Linked DNA regions of Homo sapiens. The protein of the gene in region 2 purifies or fractionates together with the protein of the main gene of each other region. This does not show direct contact. Each region holds a gene or a part of one and is shown on either strand. Other genes may lie near its edges.

Region 1 (4,159 bases), on a different chromosome or scaffold from region 2:
GCCTTTTAACATGAGAGAAGAAAAAAGGGCGATTTCAAGAGAGAAAAATTTAAGGTGTATATAAGTGTCCAGGATAATGAGCGTAAGCAACTTAAAGAGTCAAGGATGAACAGGCTGCAAAGGAAAACCATGACTGTTAAATCCTTAAAATTCCATCAAAACTAAAGAGAGCTGAACTCTCTTTATACTTAAAAATTTATTTTTAGTTTATTTACTGAATGCTTCCAGAGACCTGGAAGAAATCTGCAGTAGGCTTGGTGGGAGATTAAATCCTACTCAATGGAAATGAACTTTAAAATTCAGCAGAACTGAGCAACAAGCTACATGATGGTACAGGATGACCATCTATCTAATCCTCCTCGGCACATTAACTGATCTCTCCTTAAAAACAATACACAGACATTCACCAAGGTTTTATAGAGGAATGCATCCAGGTATATAAATAGGCCATCATACTGCATATGCTTTGAAGTTCACACCACTGCTTACATAGATTGTGAATGCCTTCTTAGAAAAAATTCTTAGGGCTGGGCATGGTGGCTCACGCCTCTAATCCTAGCATTTTGGGAGGCTGAAGTGGGAGGATCACTTGAGCCCAGGAAGTCAAGACCAGCCTGGGCAACATAAGGAGACCCCTCTCTACAAAAAATAGAAAACTTAGCCAGCCGTGGTGATTAGAATCTGTAGTCCTAGCTCCTCAGGAGCCTAAGGTGGAAGGACGGCTTGTGCCGGGGAGGTCGAGGCTGCAGTGAGCTGTGATCCCGCCACTGCACTCCAGCCTAGGTGACAGAGGGAGACCTCATTTCAAAAGTTTTTAAAAAGCAAAAGTTCTTAGAATTTACACTGGAGAAAGCACTCATATAAATTTAGGAAATGACAGAGAATGCAACAATATTATCCTATAATTTCCCACTAGGAAAACCTTCTAAGGATGATGTTTACTTTCCTCTCAAGCAGCAAGAGCAGAGAGCAATGCCCAGGTGTAAGGAAACTATAGTTGCTCACTGGGACCCTCAGAGCTCACTCTTTTCCCAAGTATTCAGGCTGGGCAAACATTTAGAATTGGAATCCCGATAATTAAGATGTGTATGAGTCAATCTAAAGGGGAGGTACAGTCTCTATTTGAAAACAAAATGCTTCTTGGCACAATTCTAAAAGTACAATTCAGGCATTAAATGCCTCCACCATTTTAAATGCTGAGTATTATTTATTCTGACCAACAAAGACCACAGAAAAATTAAAAGCAGAGAAAAAGATTAGAAATTTAACACTCCTAAACCTGGGGCATTGGTTACGTTGTTTACTTTGTGTCACTTATACAAAATTAAGTTTTACTTTTATTTTTTTTAAAGAAAAAAGCCTACAGCACTTAGTATTCCCAGGCAGTGACAAGTTTTACTTTTAATCACAACTAAAGAGGTATCTACACAAATTGTAGCAAAAATCATTAGCATTATAAATTTATGTAGATAAAAGTATCATGTGCAATTACTGACTTATATTTTGAAATTGTTATTAAAAAAAAACCTATAGTTAAGGTAGAAAAATGCCACTATACTGACAAGTAGCCCGAAATTTGGTGCCCTCTTCTTGTCAATATGTGACCAATGAAAAGCAAGTTAAGCAACCTTAACCTGGGATTACCAGGTTATTGTAAAATATCCAAGAAATATTTTTAAAAATGAAAAGGCTTTTTTTTCTTTCCGAAGTTATTTCTCAGGGAATTAGAAAAGAAAATAAATGAAAAACACTGTTCTCAAGGCTAGTTGTTGATGGCAAACAATTGGTAATTGTTTTGAGACACCCACTTTTTAACTACAAAGATACTTGACCTTAACTTAGAATACAAAATGAAACCAATCTCCACTATTCCTAAATTTGACAATTTGAACCTATAGAATGGTATAAAAAAGCCCCCAACTCGTTACTCAACAAAGATTTTTGAACAAACGACTTTGGCAAAGCACCCTGGCCCAAGGCAGACAGACCAAAAACTTTAAAAATCCTACAAAATATTCTAACTTGAGTTCAGGCTCCATACAGTACCTCACTGACCGACATGGTTTTGCTTCCTTAGTTCTCAAGGGCCAGGTCTGCTGGGTTCTGGGTGGTAAGGACCCCCCTGGGGAGACAAGACCTCGCGCCTCTGCCCGTCGTTCTGGGCCAAGCTCGGCCCAGAATGACGGGCAAAGGCCGGGCCACGGGCGACGCGAGGGCCTCCCTCACTCACCGTGAAGCGCTGGTCGCCAATGCTGCCCACGGAGAAGCAGTGGTCGCCAGGGTTCACAGCCCCGGTCAGCACCTGGTGCAGGTTCATGTCGGCGCCCTAGTCCTGCAACGGACACCGCATCCAGCTCATGCCACGGGTCAGCGGCTGCTTCCCTCCCTCCTTCCCTCAGGGGCGGCGGCCGCTCTTCGGTGGCGACGGCAGAAGCAGCGACAGGCGCCTGGAGCCGGAGCCGCTCAGCTGGGGCCCGCGACTCATCCCGAGCCCCGGAGGGCGAGGCCCGGAGGGGGCGGGTCGGCGAGAGGGCGGAGCGCCGCGCTCCTTCGCGCACCTGTCACTCCCCGCGCTAGCCCAGGTGAAGCTCAGGGTCCCCTCACCGGCCACGACCCGGGGCCGACTCACCGGCCAGGAAGGCCGCGCTGTCCACACACTTCCTCTGGACCTCGGGCAGCCGCTCCTGACCCAGCCCGAGTGGCGCAAGCAGTACGCGCTCGCACTCCCCGCCTGACCTGTCCCTTCCCGGCTCCGGTGCCCGCCACCCCCACAGTCCTCCGCCACTCACTACGCGCCTCTGGATCCCTGCGGCCGAAATATCGCGAGACTTCGCTCGGGGCAGCTGCTACTGTGGTAAAGAATTCACTTTTTTACCACAGCGTGCGTATCAGCAAGTGAACATAAAAACGCCTCTTCTAGTCAGAAACTGGCCAATCCCGACCCCCGGTCCACCTAGGGCTCCGCCCACCACCGAGAATAAGCCAATCTCTTTGAGGCTTCTACAGGAGAACGCCGTGCGTTTGAGCTTGAACCTGATAAGCCTGGCAGAAGCCTGATGAACCCAGAATGAGTGAGATGTGGTAAGTTGTGCTTTAGGTTAGGGCGTCATCTAACTGTTGGGCCAGAAAATTTAAAGGGGAGAAGTGCATCCTAAAGGGAGTTGCAGTTTCCTCGGTTCTGGTAGGACTACAAGTCCCAATATGCACCGCTCCCCCGGGCGACCTGAGTGTCTCTTGAGTAAATGTGACCCTTGAAACGTCTACGTTAGCAGCTTAATGGTTTCTCCAGCCTTGCGCGTGTTTCCAAGTCCCTAAACGGGATGGTTTTTGAAAGGCTCGAACACTTGACAAGTAGGAAAGTGGTATTTTCTTAGCCTAAGTTATCTTAACACGTGATTTGAAATAGTGCTGGTAATAACAACACACCAGCCCTGCATTGAGCGTTTGTTTTGGAAAAGAACCTAGGAATTCCAGAATGATCAGAGTCACAGCTACAAACTGAGATTCAACTCTCATTGTATTTTGACACAAGTTTTGTATTATAATTGACAAACATCTGTTTATATGTCTCCCCCTGTATACCGTAAGCCTCTTTGGAATACAGAGGAACAGGACACAAGTCTGTCCTTAATGTCTAGCACCGCACCAGTCCCACCCATTCAGGGTGTTCTGTAAATGTTGCATGAATGTGTATAGAAACTCTCCAAATAGGCCAGGCACGGTGACTCACGCCTATTATTCCAGAACTTTGGGAGGCCGAGGAGGGTGAATCACGAGGTCAGGAGTTCGAGACCAGCCTGGCCAACATAGTGAAACCCCCTTCTCTACTAAAAATACAAAAATTAGCCGGGCGTGGTGGCTCCCACCTGTAATCCCAGCTACTCGGGAGGTTGAGGCAGGAGAATCACTTGAACCCGGGAGGCAGAGGTTGTAGTGAGCCAAGACCCCCGTTGCACTCCAGCCTGGGTGACAGAGTGAGATCCCGTCTCAAAACAAACAACCCTCAAAACTCTCCAATAGGCCAGGCACGATGGCTCACGCCTGTAATCCCAGCACTTTGGTAAGTCGAGGTGGGGGCGGGGGGATCACCTGAGGTTGGGAGTTCGAGACCAGCCTGGCTAACATTGTGAAACCCAGTTTCTACTAAAAATTAAAAAAT
Region 2 (3,500 bases):
GAGCTGGCAGCATTGATGAAATGGGTAACCATAAATGAAGACTTTTTTTTTTTTGAGACAGAGTCTCACTCTGTTGCCCAGGCTGGAGTGCAGTGGTGCAATCTCAGCTCACAGCAACCTCTGCCTCCCAGGCTCAAGTGATTCTCCTGCCTCAGCCTCCCGAGTAGCTGGGATTATAGGCATGCACCACCACGCCCGGCTAATTTTTGTATCTTTAGAAGAGATGGGGTTTTACCATGTTGGGCAGGCTGGTCTCGAACTCCTGACCTCAAATGATCCACCTGCCTCGGCCTCCCAAAGTGCTGGGATTACAGGCATGAGCCACCATGCCTGGCCAAAAACTTCTACCTGCTTGGAAAGTTGACTGGTCACACAGCCTAGCAAATGAGGTTGGGATGTGGGATGTGCCTGGTTCCAATCCCAGCCCTTTACTGTTCCCATAGGAGGTGGGGACAGGCCTCACCCAGGCGTCCAGCATCCTGCAGCTGAATCTTGAGCATTTCCATGGGACAGGTCACCACGACCTGGCACATCCCAGCCCCACACCCGGCAAGCATCTCCATCTTCAGGTTCCGCTGCATCCTATGGGAACAGGCGTCAGGCTCCTTCAGCCGCAGGCCACAGGCCTGCCCTGGTGCAGCTGCCCTCTTGTGAGAGGGGGACTTTCCCTGGATGGCACCCGTGGCTGCCACTCACCCAGCTGGTCAAGTCATCAGCTAGCCCTTAGGTGTGGTCTCTGTACGGACAGGGGACTAAGTTTAAAACAAAGCCTGCTAGGGAGGTAGCACCGCATGGAAGCTGAAAACAGTGACAGAGAAAACTACCCAGACCAGGCGTTGTCCTTGATCCCTTCAGGAACATCACTGGGCAATGTGAGGCACAGAGAGAGCTAGAAAGTGTTTGGGGGCTGATTTGTTTTTCCTGAGACGAGGTCTCGCTCTGTGACCCACGCCGAAGTGCAGTGGAGCCAACATGGCTCACTGCAACCTCGACCGCCTGGGCCCAAGCGATCCTCCTTCCTCAACCTCCTAAAGTGCTGGGATTACAGGCATGAGCCACTGCAGCCAGCTTGGTGGCTGATTTTTAAAAATTTATTGGCTAGTTGATGGATTTGTCTGTATATGCTATATGTTCTCTATATTATCTGTCACACTTCCAAAGTATACCAGCTCATTCTCTCCCTTCACTCTCCAGCAGCCCAAACACACACCAGCCCTCAGCCATGTGTGCACATATTTATATGCATGCAGGCAGGTATACTGAGGCACATTTGAAATCTTCTTCCTGCCATCTCTCCCAAAAAACACACAGTGAAGGATCCAACCCCACCCCACCTGGCCATACCCATCTTCCATGAGCAGCCGCCGGAAAAAGTCGTTGGCCGCCAGCTTGATGGCCTTCTCTGGAGTGACCAGAGTGAGGTTCACTGCAGCCCCTGGAAGTGAAGGACAAGATGGGGAGTCAAGGCCATCCCAGAAATAACAGTGCCCCAGGTCTGCCCTTCAGCCCTAGCCAGGCCAGTCCCTGAGTGAAGGGCATTTTTGGGGCCAGGTGGGGCTCCTGAGCCTAATTCACTGAAATAACTTTCCATTCCCACTCCCTACCACATTCTCCTTTTTTTTTAGATGGAGTCTCGCTCTGTCGCCCAGGCTGGAGTGCAGTGGCGCGATCTCGGCGCACTGAAAGCTCCGCCTCCCGGGTTCGCGCCATTCTCCTGCCTCGGCCTCCCTAGTAGCTGGGACTACAGGCGCCCGCCACCACGCCCGGCTAAATTTTTTTTGTATTTTTTAGTAGAGACGGGGTTTCACCGTGTTAGCCAGGATGGTCTCGATCTCCTGACCTCGTGATCCGCCCGCCTCGGCCTCCCAAAGTGCTGGGATTACAGGCGTGAGCCACCGCGCCCGGCCCCACATTCTCCCCTTTTTACGTATTTTTTTCTTACGGACTCCTCAGTTTGGTTATCAGGAAGCCATTTTATTTTTGTTGCTGCTGGTGGGGTCGCTGATGATAAAACAGCAGTTCCAGTGACAGGCGCCAGGCGCAGGGACTGGGGTTCCGCTCCTCTGTGCCGCACAAGCCAGTCCCATTGGCTGCTAGCTCGGGGCTGTCTAGGGTTTGTGTTTTGCTTCTCGGCGGCACAAGCATACGAGCTCCGGCTCAACTCCAGCTTGGGATCCATTGTCCAAGGTACCTCCTGGCTGGGGACCCCGCAGGGACCGCAGCAACGCTGGACCGAGCTGGGGAGGAGCCACCCAGAACTCCTTGCCAGGAGCTCAGGCCCCGTCCCTCAGTCCCTTTCAGCCTCTCTCTCTTCGCTTCTAGCCAGGCAGAGAGAGGCAGGCAGGTAGGGAGGGCTCGCCTGCTCTTACTGAGGCGGTGGCGGGGGGTGTGCTCTGTGGGTCTCCGGAAGCCTTACCAGGACCCAGAGCTGCCTCTGTCTCCACCCAAGAGCACAGAGGCTCATCAGGAAGGACCCCCTGGCAGCCCTGGCCCCATCCCCGCAGCAACGGAAGGAACACCAGTTCCCCATGTCCCATACGCTCACACCTGCTGCCCAGCCTCCCAGGGGACCTGAGAAGCCCACCTCGGTACATGCCGAAGAAGCCCTCCGCCCGAGCCGTCTTCATCAGGCAGTCGATCCTGGAAGCAGAGGCCAGAGTAGGAGTAAGTGTGCAGCGGGCCTCCCAGCCGCCTCCATGCCCTGCTCCCGCGGGCACATCCCAGCTGATCAGATCCCCAGCCCCCAGGCTCACGCGCGCTGCCTGGAGACTGGAGGGAAGGGGGCCCCATCCCTCCCCCGGGCGCCTCTGCCCTCCACGCTCGCCTGCCAGCACCTACATTCCTTTGTACATGGCTTTCCCATGCTGGTTCTGCAGGCGAGTCTTGGCCAAGTCGATGGGGAACACGCAGGTCACCCCCACGAGCCCTGCTACACCTCCATTGATGAGTTTGGCTGTGATGCTAGGACAGGGGGAGGACAGGGGGAGGAGAGAGGCAGAGGGAGGGGCAGGTTAGGGAGCGGATGCAGCCAGGAATGGGCAGGGGCACAGACAGTGGGGAACCCCAGCCCCACAGGTGTCCAGAGACCCTCTTCAGCCTCCCTGGCCCAGGTCTGGTCCAGACAGGACAGCCGCACTCACCCGGGTGAGGCATCTTGCTGCAACCCGGGAAGTCCCTGGAGCTGGGACCTGCAGGGGCTTCTGGGAGGAGCCCAGCTCTGCCCCCATGGGCCGCCACCAGGGCACCGCTCTGCCCCAAGCTTCCCCGGCCCGTCCTCTGGCTCCTCCGCAGGCCTGGAGCCACGTGTGCAGTTCTCACACAAACGGACTGAAGGTCAGGCAGAACTGAGTTTGCATCCTGACTGTGACCTCTCCTCTCTGGGCCTGCATTCCCGTCGAACTCACTCCAGGGTTGCTGAGGACTATGGAAACCGTGCCTGGGGGGGAATGCCAGCTATTGTTCATAATAAGAGAGCAGGCACTTCCCACAGTGAAGGCTTC
Region 3 (3,500 bases), on a different chromosome or scaffold from region 2:
TTCTCAACTCATTCTATGAGGCATTACTCTGACATCAAAACTAGATAAAATGTCACAACAAAAACTATAGACCAATATCCCTTATGAATACAGATGCAAAATTCCTCAATAAAATATCAGCAAACCAAATCCAGCAAAATATAAAATTATATACTATGACCAAATAAGATTTATCCTAGGAATGTAAGCATGGTTTAACATCTGAAAAATCATATAATGTGATATGTCGCAATAGAATACTTAAGTTTAAAAAAAAGCCACATGATTATCTAAACAGACAGAAGAAAAACATTTGACACACTCCAACACCCTTTCATGAGTTAAAAACACTCAAAAAACTAGGAATAGAAGAAAACTTTCTCAATCTGATAAAGAGAATCTATGAAAAACTCACAGCTAATATCATACTTAATGGTGAAAGACTGAACGCTTTACCCCTAAGATCAGGAACAAGGAAAGGGTGTCTGTTCTCACCTCTTCTATTTGACATTGTACCAAAAGTTTTAGTCAGAGTAATTATGAAAGAAAAAGAAATAAAAGGTATCCAGATTGGAGTAGAAGGAATACTATTTCTATTTGTAAGATGACATGATCTTATATAGAGAAAATCCTAAGAAATCCACTAAGAAACTATTAGAACTAATAAATGAATTCAGCAAGATTGCAGGTACACGATCAATACACAAAAATACTTCTATACACTAGCAATGAACAATCCAAATATGAAATAAAGAAAATTCCATCTACAATAGCATCAAAAATGAAATAATTAGGAAAAATTTAATAAAAAGTGTAGGCACACTAAAAATTACAAAACTTGGAAAGAAACTAAAGATCTAAATAAGGAAAACCAGCCCATGTTCATTGGCCATAAGACAATATTGTTAAAATGGCAATACTTCCCTAGGCAACAGACTGAGTCCTTGTCACAGAAAGGAAAGAAGGAAAGGAAAGGGGAGACGGGAAAGAGGAGAGGAGAAAGAGGAGAGGGGAAAGAGGAGAGGGGAGAGGAGGGGAGAGGGGATAAAAGGAAAGAGGAGAGGGGAGGAGGAGGAGGAGGGGAGGAGAAGGAAGAAGAGGGAGGAAAGGGGAGAGGAGGAGAAAAAGGAGGAGGAAAAAAGGAAAGGAAAGATTTGTAGATGCCTATCAAAATCCCAACTGGTTGGTTTTTTTGGTTTTTTTTTTTTTGTCTTTTTTTGCAGACACGGATATGATGATCCTAAATTTCATACGGGAATGCAAGAGACCCAGAAGAGACAAAAATCATCTTAAAAACAACAAAGTCAGAGGACTTACTCGTCCTTATTTCAAAAGTACAGTAATCTATCTTATCCATGGGGGATACATACCGAGTCCCCCAGCGGATGCCTGAAACAATGGATACTACCAAATCCTAAATATACTGTTTTTTTCCTAAACATACCTATGATAAAGCTGACTTTATAAATTATGTACAGTAAAAGATTAACAATAATAATAAAATAGAAAAATTATAACAATATATTGTAATAAGGTATGTGAATGTGGTCGCTCTCTCCCTCAAAGTATCTTAAGGTTTTTGAACCTCAGTTGACCAGGGGTAACTGAAACCAAAGAAGGCAAAATCACTGAGAAGGCGGACTACTATATACAAAACTATAGTAACCAAGACAGTGTGGTTCTGGCATAAGGACAGATACAGACAGGAAGGGAACAGAACTGAGAGTCCAGAAATCCATACATCTATGGTCAATTGATTTTTGACAAGGGGAGAAGTAAATGGAAAGTGACTCATGGGTGTAAGGTTTCGTTTGTGGGTGATGAAAATGTTCTAAAATTAGATCATGGTGATGGTCACACAACCCGGAATATACTAAAAGCCAATTAATTATACACTTAAAATGGGTGGATTTTATGACATGTGAATTTCATCTCAATAAAGCTGTTCAAAAAAAAGGATATGGGAATGTTACGAACAACTTCACGCCAATATATCTGATAATTTAGATGAAATGAAATACCCCTTTAGGCCAGGCGCAGTGGCTCACGCCTGTAATCCCAGCACTTTGGAAGGCTGGGGCGGACGCATCATGAGGTCAGGAGATCGAGACCATCCTGGCTAATACAGTGAAACCCCGTCTCTACTAAAAATACAAAAAATCAGCCAGGCGTGGTGGTGGGTGCCTGTAATCCCAGCTACTCGGGAGGCTGAGGCAGAAGAATCGCTTGAACATGGGAGGCAGAGGTTGCAGTGAGCCGAGATCATGCCACTGCACTCCAGCGTGGGCAACGGAGCGAGACTCCATCTCAAAAAAAAAAAAAAAAGAAAGGAATGCCCTTTTATATGCCTTATATTCTTCCTGTTAGATTTATTTCTATATTTTTTCTTTTTGTTGCTCTTACACAGTGTATTTTTTTCATTATATCTTTTAATAAACATGTATTTCTATATAGGAACACTACTAAGTTCTGCACATTAATTTTGTACCTATCTACCTTCCAGAATTATCTTAATGCTTAATGCTGCTTAGTTTATTCTCTTGGATTACCAGTTATAAAATAATATCATCAGCAAGTAATAATTTACCCCCTCCTTTCCATTTTTATCCTTCTATTTTGCTATATTTCTATTTTCTACTTCTAATTCTGTTGGCTGGTATCTCCAAACACAGTTAAATTATGATAGTCTTGTCCTTGTCTTGTTCCTAACTTTAACAGGAATGCTATTAGAGTTTTTTTCTTTAATCAAGATGCTGTTTGGAGTTGAAATAAATACATTTCAATGGTGTAGGAAATTATCCATTTTTTTCTTAAGAGGGTTCATTTTAAAAGAATCAAGAATAGATGTTGAATGTTAACAGATGTCTCTTCAACATCTATACAGAGGATGGCACAAGTTTCATGTATTTTAGATTTCACATATATATAAAATTATATTAATAGATATCCCAATATTGAACTATCCCTATACTTCTACTAAACTTCAGTTGGTCTATGGTATATTGGTCTTTCAATATGCTGCTAGATTTTGTTTCCTGATCTTCTATGTAAAATTTTTTGCATCAATATTCACAGGTGGAGAACATTAGAGTCTGCAGTTCTCTCTTTCTGTGTGTTTACTGTCAGGTGTCAGTGTCAATATTATACTTGTTTCATAAAAATAACCTGGCCCCTTTCTCTCTCTGTGCTTTGTAACAATTTAAACAATAATGGAAATATATGTTTTTTAAAGGTTTGAGGACATTCCCTATCAATCTGAGCCTGGTGTTTCTGAGGGACTGTATCTCTGAGAACTTTTCCTATTACTTTTCACCCCATGGTCATTAGTCTATTTAGACAATCTCCATGGGAATCAGTTTTAGTAAATTACATTTATATGCCATCCAAATTTTCCATTTCTTTTGCACTTAGTTGAGCAAAAACAACAAAAAACCCTTGTGATTCTTGATTCCGCTGCATCTGGATGCTTGTTCCTGCTCTTTTCCCACTTACATAGGTTAGCTAATGAGCTTCTTTAATCA
Region 4 (3,500 bases), on a different chromosome or scaffold from region 2:
GATGTGGGCAAGGACAGGTCCAAAAGGCCAATGAGTTAAAGAAAAAAGGAACGTGGGAACAGAAGTCATATCTATTTGTCTGTATGTAGTAGCAGGATGGCTACTAAAGATCATCTACTCACTCGAGGAATATTTATTGGGCACCTACCACGTGCATTTATTTCTAGGCGCTAGAGATGCAATCGTGATTAAAAACAGATTCAGCTGCTGCTACTCTTGAGCTCGTCTGGGAAGGGAGGGAGACAAACCAATCAGTCACAGAGAAATGTATAATTAGAACCGAGGGAAGTGCTCTGAAGGAAATAAGCCTGATTTAGATGATGCCTACACTGAGAACTGAATGATGAGTAGGTATTCACTAGACAAAGAAAAAAAGGAAAGCGTGTTCTAACAGATGCATGCAAAAGTCCTTCAGCAGAAGGCAACACGAGGCAAGAAGCAGCACAGTTGGATAGGATGCTGGGGAGGCCAGTGGGAGCCAGGCCATGCAGACTTGCCCTTTATCATAACAGAACTAGGGCTGGGCACAGTGGCTCACACCTGCAATCTCAGCACTTTGGGAGGCCAAAGCAGGAGGATCGCTTGAGCCCAGGAGTTCAAGACCACCGTGAGCAACATAAGACGACCCTGTCTTACCCTGTACAAAAAAAATTAAAAATTAGCCAGGTATGGTGGTGTATACCTGTAGTCCCAGCTACAGGGGAGACTGAGGCGGGAGGATCACTTGAGCCCAGGTGGTCAAGGCTGCAGTGAGCCTTGATTGTGCCACCACACTCCAGGCTCAGTGACAGAGCAAGACCCTGTCTCAAAAAAGAGAGAGGAATGGAAGCCAGGAAATAGTTTTTCCAGATACACATTTTGAAAAACTACTCCAGAAGCTACTAGGAGTACACCCTAAAGCGGAGGCCAGATTGGAAAGAAGAAAATCAGGGCTGATGCAGAGAAATAAGGTAGAAAACCATGAGCTAGGCTAGGTAAGAGGCAATGGTAACCTGAGTTGGAGTGGTAACAGAGGATGAGAAGTCTAAGAATGCAGCCCTTGGGCCAAGCACTGTGGCTCACACCTGTAATAACAGGGCTTTGGGAGGCTAAAGCAGGAGGATCACTTGAAGCCAGGAGTTTGAGACTAGCTGGGTCAACATAGTGAGACCGTCTCTACAAAAAATTAAAAATATCAGCCATGCATGGTGACACACACCTGTAGTCCCAGCTACTTGGGGGGCTCAGGTGGGAGGATCCCTTGAGCCCAGGAGTTCAAGGCTACAGTGAGCTATGATAACACCACTGCACTCCAGCCTGGGTGACAGGGCAAGACCTGTCTCTAAAATAAATCAATAAATGAGAATGCAGCCCTTAGATCTGCCATGGCAAACAAATAGGACATGTCCTACTATTTTCCTCCAGGCCTAAAACTGTGAAGGACATCACTAGTCAATTATGGCACCCTAGACATGGCCTCAGAACCCTCAACATTGTTCACTACGTAGCAGTTACCAATAGATGAGATGAAATCCAGTGAGATCTACTTGCTGCCTAGCCTGAGACCTTCTGTGAGCCAGAGTTAGGAGGGGTCACCCAACTGCACTCATGCATCTCCTACCAATCTCAGAATCAGGCAAAAAAGGAGTGGCTCACACGTTTCCTCCAGGAAGCCTTCCCAGCCAATTTTATCCTCTCCTGTCAACCCAGAACCACCTTAGCACTGAGCTCATAATTTTCATGTGTTCCCAGACAGATTTCTCTCAATATTATTATTTTTTCTTTCTTTCTTTTTGAGACAGAGGAGTTTCGCTCTTGTTGCCCAGGCTGGAGTGCAATGGTGCGATCTCGGCTCACTGCAACCTCCGCCTCCTGGGTTCAAGCGATTCTCCTGCCTCAGCCTCCTGAGTAGCTGGGATTACAGGTATGTGCCACCACGCCTGGCTAATTCTGTATTTTTTTAGTGGAGATGCAGTTTCTCCATGTTGGTCAGGCTGGTCTCGACCTCCTATCCTCAGGTGATCCACCCGCCTCGGCCTCCCAAAGTGCTGGGATTACAGGCGTGAGCCACCGTGCCTGGCCAATATTACTTTTTTTATGAAAATGTGTCTTCTTACCTCTCCTGTTAAACCACAAACTTCTGAGGGCCATGTCTCCTCCTCTGGAATTTTCCAACAAAGCCTAAAATAAGCCTATGTAAGCTGTCGGAGCTCAGTTACTGCTGTAACTGCTAATATAAAACCAAGGAATAGGCCGGGTGTTGTGGCTCACACCGGTAATCCCAATACTATGGGGGACCAAGGCCTAGGATCACTTGAGCCTAGAAGCTCAAGACCAGCCTGAGCAATATAGTAAGACCCTGTCTCCACAAATATATATATATATATATATATTAGCCAGGCATGGTGGCGTGCACCTGTGGTCCCAGCTACTCGGAAGGCTGAGGCAGGAGCTATGTGATCAGATGGAAAGGAAGACAGAGTTACATAAAGAGTGTAAAGTGGGGAGGCAGAGGTGGGAGGATCACTTGAGACCAGGAGTTCGAGGCTGCAGTGAGCTATGATTGTACCACCATACTCCAGCCTGGGCAACAGAGTGAGACCCTATCTGAAAAAAAAAAAAAATACACCAGCAATCTCAGAAGCTAGGAAGACCCGCAGTAGTTTTGGTCCACCTTCCTTCCCATGCCAAAATTTTCCTCTCTGTGCTTCCAGTGACAGGCGGCATAGTGGTCAAAGTACCAGCTTTGGAGACAGAAGACCTGGATTCAAATCCCAGCTCTCTCACTTAGCAGCTGTATGACCTTAGGCAAGGTGCTTCACCTCTCTCAGCCTCAATAACTGCATGTGTATAATTAAAACAATCTTAACAAAAATCAAAAAGCCTGAAAGTAAAATGAAACAACACTTATAAAGTGCCTAGCACAGTCCCTGTATACAGAAAAGTTACACAAATTTAGCTAGTATTACAGATTCTATTTTCAATTCCATAGTTAGATAATTCTTAACTATTAGAAGGTCTAATAGTAAGCCAATAATCAGGTTCTAAAAAAATGTTCCCTGGTATCTCAAGTCTGCCTTCTGCTCATCTGGGGACACCCTAGGATTCTCTAGCTAAGGTAGGCTAAGTATTCCCAGTTCTCTTCCATTCAGTACATATCGTTTCCCAGTCCTTCAATATTGTGGCTACCTTGCCCTGTACTTTGTCAGCATAGCTAGAGTTTTGCACATCTGCACACTAACAGAGAATATACACTCACAGACATAATGAGGGTTCTCTGTATATTTATTTCTTCCACCCTGCTCCAACAATTACAAAGAAGGTTGACCACAGAAAAGATTGACTGGAGAAGGTAAAGGGGAGAAGGTGGAAGATGTCAGAGTTGATTACGCAGTGGTAATGAGCAAAAGCTTTGGAACATTCTTGGCTTTCAATCCCAGCTCTGCCTCTTACTAGCTGGACAGCCTCAGTTTTCTCATCTATAAAATGAGAGTACTAACAATATCCATCACAATGTGTTG

Evidence for each region. The genes of interacting proteins can lie anywhere in the genome.
Region 1: the proteins of SLC25A18 (region 2) and DMXL1 purify together in Homo sapiens (affinity purification with mass spectrometry; one large-scale study listed by BioGRID and IntAct). This does not show direct contact.
Region 3: the proteins of SLC25A18 (region 2) and ANGEL1 purify together in Homo sapiens (affinity purification with mass spectrometry; one large-scale study listed by BioGRID and IntAct). This does not show direct contact.
Region 4: the proteins of SLC25A18 (region 2) and CEP164 purify together in Homo sapiens (affinity purification with mass spectrometry; one large-scale study listed by BioGRID and IntAct). This does not show direct contact.

What each region holds. Positions count from the first base shown.
Region 1 is NC_000005.10:119,069,728-119,073,886, reverse strand, and holds the start of DMXL1 (dmX-like protein 1), read right to left. Parts: upstream 2,801-4,159; 5' UTR 2,318-2,800; coding exon 2,231-2,317; intron 1-2,230.
Region 2 is NC_000022.11:17,580,498-17,583,997, reverse strand, and holds part of SLC25A18 (mitochondrial glutamate carrier 2), read right to left. Parts: intron 2,962-3,500; coding exon 2,839-2,961; intron 2,665-2,838; exon of another isoform or gene 2,641-2,664; coding exon 2,585-2,640; exon of another isoform or gene 2,450-2,584; intron 1,436-2,449; coding exon 1,345-1,435; intron 583-1,344; coding exon 464-582; intron 1-463. UniProt on the Homo sapiens protein: Responsible for the transport of glutamate from the cytosol into the mitochondrial matrix with the concomitant import of a proton (symport system).
Region 3 is NC_000014.9:76,792,383-76,795,882, forward strand, and holds part of ANGEL1 (protein angel homolog 1), read right to left. Parts: intron 1-3,500.
Region 4 is NC_000011.10:117,330,854-117,334,353, reverse strand, and holds part of CEP164 (centrosomal protein of 164 kDa), read right to left. Parts: intron 1-3,500. UniProt on the Homo sapiens protein: Plays a role in microtubule organization and/or maintenance for the formation of primary cilia (PC), a microtubule-based structure that protrudes from the surface of epithelial cells. Plays a critical role in G2/M checkpoint and nuclear divisions.